Regions from separate parts of the Homo sapiens genome. Here region 2 is linked to region 1. Evidence: fine-mapped expression QTL. A gene starts in region 1. The other region holds a variant in brackets. All regions are shown on one strand. Distances are from middle to middle.

Evidence for each region. PIP is the estimated chance that this variant, and not a neighbour inherited with it, causes the effect.
Region 2: its variant is fine-mapped to the expression of RYR3 in nasal epithelium (TOPMed, PIP above 0.99).

Annotation. Positions count from the first base shown.
Region 1 is chr15:33,309,547-33,312,451 of GRCh38, forward strand. It overlaps RYR3 (ryanodine receptor 3), which reads left to right and starts at 1,421. Exons shown (of 104, transcript NM_001036.6): 1 at 1,421-1,550. The coding sequence starts at 1,500. RYR3-DT (RYR3 divergent transcript) reads right to left here and starts at 1,113. Exons shown (of 3, transcript NR_120327.1): 1 at 1,032-1,113. RefSeq lists enhancers at 1,642-2,153, 2,154-2,663.
Region 2 is chr15:33,803,136-33,806,040 of GRCh38, forward strand. The region is part of intron 69 of RYR3 (ryanodine receptor 3); the gene reads left to right. Among named protein-coding and RNA genes, the nearest start is that of CHRM5, 160 kb to the right of the region's middle. The variant A/T (reference allele first, on the strand shown) is at 1,199.

The DNA.
Region 1 (2,905 bases):
GTACAATACAAGAAAAAAACATTTTTCTTTGCATTTCTGATGTTCATCAGAACATATGGGACGGAAGCTCAGGAAAGAGATCTTAAGGTAGCATCAAGAGATAGATGTCGTCCACAAGGAGGCGGTATATGAAGCTGTGAAATGGCTTGGGGTTTCCAGTGTCTTCCACCATCATCAGCCCAGAATTACCACCTTCCCAGTTGCACTTCCTCCTAAATCTACATCTCTGGTGCCTTTTGCCTTGAACAGTCTCTTGCCTTGGAGCTTCTCGGCCATCAAACAGAAGGGGGCACCCTGCACCGTCAGTCAAGGCAAGGACCAATCTGGCAATCCCCAACCATGGAAAAGGACCTAAGGCTGGGTGGGATGTAGGAGCCTTCCAGGACCTGGAAGGGAGCCTCCTGTAACTACTCTCTACTCCCTTTAGAGTCCACAGGGCTGGAACTCTAAATGCAGAATAAGGTTAGGGGTGGGCAGAGAGGAAGGGTTGTGATGCCACCTGACTTCCAAATTGAGGGTGGCACAGGATCCCCCAGAAGCTCCCTGGGGTACAGAAGTCACAGCAACCCTGGACAATCCAGGGGTTTGGTAAAGTGTACTTACCAATTTTGAAGAGGGGAAGGGGTTCTCTTAAGGTGTAGAAAGGACTATCCAGGGAGTTGCAAACTTTGTTGTAAGTGGACAATCACCCTCGCTCCTCACTGCACCGTCTTCTCCTTGCCCAACAATGCACGCGGGTCCTAGCAAGGTATTCGAGTCCAGATCTCTCTCTCTCTCTCTCTCTCTCTCTCTGTCTCTGTCTCTCTCTCTTTCCTCTCTCTGTCTCTCTGTCTCTGTCTCTCTCTTTCCTCTCTCTCTCTCTCTGTCTCTGTCTCTCTCTTTCCTCTCTCTCTCTCTCTATCTCTGTCACACACACACACACACACACACACACACACACACACACACAGGCAAAGTGGGCAAAGCGGGCAAAGCGAGCAAAGCGAGAGGGTTGGTACCCAGTCTGGGCGCGCTGGAGCTAAGCAACTGGCCTTTGTTTGTGAATTGGAGCAGTTTAGGGGACATCCTCCGGTCGCCGCGGGGCGCGCGCCTCCGCTGAGTGTGCGGTGCGGTACCCAGCGGTGCGGGGGAGGCTCCACCGCGCCAGCCCAGGGCCCCCGCACCGCCCCCGCCAGCTCGACGCGCCCAGCGTTGCGCTCTCCACGGAGCGGGCGGCCGCAGCGCACTTGGCTGGGGCGAGAGGCGAGAGGGGTGGGCGGACTGCTTGGTTGGCGTTGGCGCTCTGCAGTGCAGTGGAGTGTTAGCCCAGCTCCCTATATGGTCGGGGATTAGCTTGGCGCTGCTGAGGCTGAGGCTGAGCCAGGAGCTGGAGGAGGAGGTGGAGGACGAGGACGAAAAGGAGGAGGAGAAAGAGCGCAGCAGCAGTCAGCGCACGCCGAGCGGCTGCCGGGGGAAGCAGAGGCGCCGGAGGCTGGGGCACCGCCGACGCCTCGGGAGCCATGGCCGAAGGGGGAGAAGGAGGCGAGGACGAGATCCAGTTTCTGAGGACTGTGAGTCTCCGCGGCGGGGGCGAGGCCGTGGGCAGGTGGGGAGGAGCGCGGAGCGCGGCGAGGAGGGGCTGGCTGCGCTGCGCCGCGGTGCCGGGTGCCCGGTGCCGGGCGCTTTCTCCGCACCCGCGGGCTGCAGAGGCGGACCGGCCACCTACCCGCGGGGCCGCGAGGGGCTGCGTGGGAAGGGGCACCATCTCCTGCCTCTCCCTTGTTCCCCTACCGCCACCCCTGCCCCAGGCCCTCCACCTAGGACCGCTCGCTCTCCAGGCAACTTGCTACTTGGTCTGAAACCCTTGATGCCCAAACTTCAGCCGGGGTTTGTTCGCGGTTGTCCTGACCCATAAGATCGGCGTTGGAAGCCCTCGCCCCGGGGTCGGCCCTCTGACACCTCCATACTCCACCCCAGCCCCATTCCTCTTCCAGGGCGCCCCCACGCACAGGGGAACCTCCGGGAAGGAGCCAGCGGGGCAGGGGGGAGTGTGGGGAGCCGGGTCGGAGAAGCGGGCGCAGGCGCTTGGTCCTAGCCCTGGGATCGCTCGGAGGGGAATTCACCCAGCGCTGCCCCTCTCGTGTTAAGCCCCACGCCGGCAACTGCTGCTGGAGCCTGACTTGACTGACTGCCTGTCGTGTGTTCGAGAGCTGTGGCTTCTGCTCCTGGCTCCCGCGAGCCCCGCAGGACAGGGAAACCCCAGTCAGTGGCTCCGCGTCACTCAGGTCCCCTCCTTGACACCTGAGGGCGCTGCTCCGTCCCAGATTTGGGGGTGAGGGGGCGAAGTCTGTTGCAGCCACACCAGCCTTGCCCTGTAGGAGATAATACAAAGACTTTCAGGGTGGACGGCCACCCGGAGGGGTGGGGGCATTGGGGATGCATCCTAGCGCTGACTTCAGCCAAGTGACCTTGAGCAAGTCGCATAATCCGCCCTACTCAGCCTCAGTTTCCTCATGTGTAAAATAAAATGTAACCAGCGTTTCAGGGTGATAAGGATTAAACGTTATCGTGAATGTCATAATGTTTTGTAAACGGCAAATCGCTCTGTAAATCTTAGGTAATTTTATATGCGCTGCCTTGCTCTCAGGAATTAGAATGAAATTCTTTCTTTCCCTCTCTCACTTCCCTTTAAGGGTGCCCCCTTCTCCATGACCTGGTCTTCGAAGATCACAACTTACCTCTTGTCCATCTTTTGAACCACTCTCCTCCTGTTGAAGCGCTTCCTTCCAATTTACTTCAGTTTCTCTTCCAAACATGGTTCTTTTGTCAAAGCTGGGACTTGGGTCTTATTTGGGGGGGGTATGGAAGTACCTATCGCCCTGCTGGTACTACTGAGAGGCTAGAGTATTCATCTCTTCATCCTTCG
Region 2 (2,905 bases), 490 kb after region 1:
AACATATAGAAATTGACTGTTAGAGTTTATAGTATACTCTAAGTATACACTTTTAGTATGCATTGCTTGATAAAGTTTGACAAACAAAATTACGTACATACAAAGTAGAGCAATCACATTCATGAGGAATCTTTGCTGCAAAGGTATCCTTTGTGCTTTAGTTTTATTTGATTTTTCAGAATTCATTTTGCATTTGTCTTTTGGTAAACACATCTACTGTCATATGATGTAGACGAGGTTGAGTTTTTTCAAATCCACCTTTCGGGGACAGCTAGCTTATCTTAAGTTGCCTCTGCAGGTCTTCTTACAGGTATCACAGCCTCTTCTTTGACTCATCTACCTGCAGAAAGTCAATAAATCCCAGACAGATTCCATACTATCTTTTTTTTTTAATTTTTTGAGATGGAGTCTCACTCTGTTGCCCAGCTGGAGTGCAGTGGCATGATCTCGGCTCTCTGTGAGCTCTGCCTCCCAGATTCAAGCAATTCTTCTGCCTCAGCCTCCCAAAAGCTGGAGCTACAGGCGCACGCCACCACACCTGGCTAATTTTTGTATTTTTAGTAGAGATGGAGTTTCGCCATGTTGGCCAGGCTGGTCTCGAACTCCTGACCTCAAGTGATCCACCCACCTCATCCTCCCAGAGTGCAGGGATTACAGGCGTGAGCCACAGCTCCCGGCCTTATCTTCAAATTGGGGTAGATTCAATGGCTTAGGACTGAACCAGCTAGCATCCATTGGGATTGTCAGGGAACAATCACAAAGCAATGGAAATGAATCTGATACCAGGACTTGGATCCTGGATGAGCAGAAATGGCAAAGACATCTCAAGCCTCTGGTAATGAATGAATGCTCAAGGTCCTTGGGTTTACATTTGGACAAAGATGAGGTAGCAGAAAATGGCATTTCAAAACCCACCTACTAACAAACTAACCTGACATTTTGTTCATTCACATCACTGAATGAGGAAAAGCGGGTGTTTGTTTCTTGACAAAGGATGGTCATTTTCAGAAAGTGGTCTTCTTCCTTGCTGGTCCGGTTAGTCTGTAGAAGCAAAGTCTTTTGTTTCATTTCTGTTGTTGTCATATGCCAAGTATTTCTGAGCCACATGGGATAGGGTCAAAATTACAACTTAACGAATGGATGAGAGGACACTCCCTAGATGTTGAATAATAGTTGCCATGGTCCTCAGGGTAACAAG[A/T]GTTCATATTGTTCTGTTGCCTGAGTTAAGACACTGTGTAGTGGTAAATAGACCAGAAGGCGAAAGGAAGCTAAGTCTTGCCCCTGGCCCAGCTGTTGGCTAAAGCTACACCTTGCATCATTCACTTAACTCCTCTGGGTCCCATTTACCAATCTGCAGAATGGGATTGAGCTTACTTCCTGACTTCTCCCAGCTCTACTAAGATGTTCTGGTTTAAGGTCAGTTTCAACAGTATCTCTAGGATAGAGTAATATTTGAGAAATACAGTGCATTATTTCAGACAAAAAGATACCATGCCTCCGATAAGAAATATCTCCTAGCCATTTCTGGTATTTTTTGGATGTGGAACTACATACTGAGGGGTTAGGGCAGGAGTATTCTTCCTTATCAGTTGACTCCCTATTGCCTTTGCCTCCCTGCAATTAGATGTTCTCTCTACTACCTGATCTGAACAGTGACCTGTACTTGCTTTTATCTCCACTCTTAACTGAATTCTGGTGTTGTAAAAATGAAGTTAGCCTCAGTGCATATGGCAGGCTTTGTGGAGGTATGTGTATATGAATGCCCTATGCCACACACACCACATATGCCGTTGCGAATGGAAAGGAAGTGGAGAAAATATACAGTGAGCCACGCTGTTACTACTTGATTAGTTGAAGGTCAGTTCAAAGATAACGCTATTTTTCTGGGGCAGTCAAAGCAGATTTTGCTTGTGAGAGCTCATTGTATATTTTGTGTATATAACACCAGTTTGCAAATGTATGTTAAGCTAAATGTAACTAAGCTGAGCAAGTGTTTTTTGTTTTGAAACTTTTTTTGTTTCTGGAAAAATGACAGCAGCTTCCTCAGAAGGGAATGGTAAGTTAGAATGTGTTCAGCCCAAGAAATGCCAGTTCCTTGACCAAGGTTATAAACAATAAAATCAAAAAAGTGTCGTGATGCAGGAAATATTAGAGTGCCTCATTGTTCAAAGCCACTCCACCCCATGAAGTGTGATTTCAGTGGATCGAAAAAGGACAGGAAATATTTTTGAAGCTATCTTTGAGTTTTTCAAGGGCATTCACACTTACACGTGTGAGTGAATTTTCTTGCTCATTCTCCCTCTTTCATTCCCTCCCCTACCACTTTTCTCTCTCTTTTTTTTTTTTTTTTCTTCTTCTTTGAGACGGAGTCCTGCTCTGTCGCCCAGGCTGGAGTACAGTGGTGCGATCTCGGCTCACTGCAAGCTCCGCCTCCCTGGTTCACACCATTCTCCTGCCTCAGCCTCCCAAGTAGCTGGGACTACAGGTGCCCGCCACCACGCCCGGCTAATTTTTTGTATTTTTAGTAGAGACAGGGTTTCACTGTGTTAGCCAGGATGGTCTCGATCTCCTGACGTCATGATCCGCCCGCCTCGGCCTCCCAAAGTGCTGGGATTACAGGCTTGAGCCACCACACCCGGCCTTCTCTTTTGTTTTTATTCCCTTTGTTCTTGCACTTCTGCTGTTTACTCACAGGCATGTGTGCATACTCTGTCTCTCTCTCTCATAAATGTGCACACGGGAACGCACACTCATCCTCTTCTTCTCCTCTCCCCCTCCCCTTTCACCCTCCCCTTTTCTCCTCCCTTCCCCTCCCTTCTCTCCACCTCTGCCTCTGTCCACCATTTCTTCCTTCCCTCCTGCCCTCCTTCTCTCACTCTATCTCTTGCTTCGCATTCTCAGACCG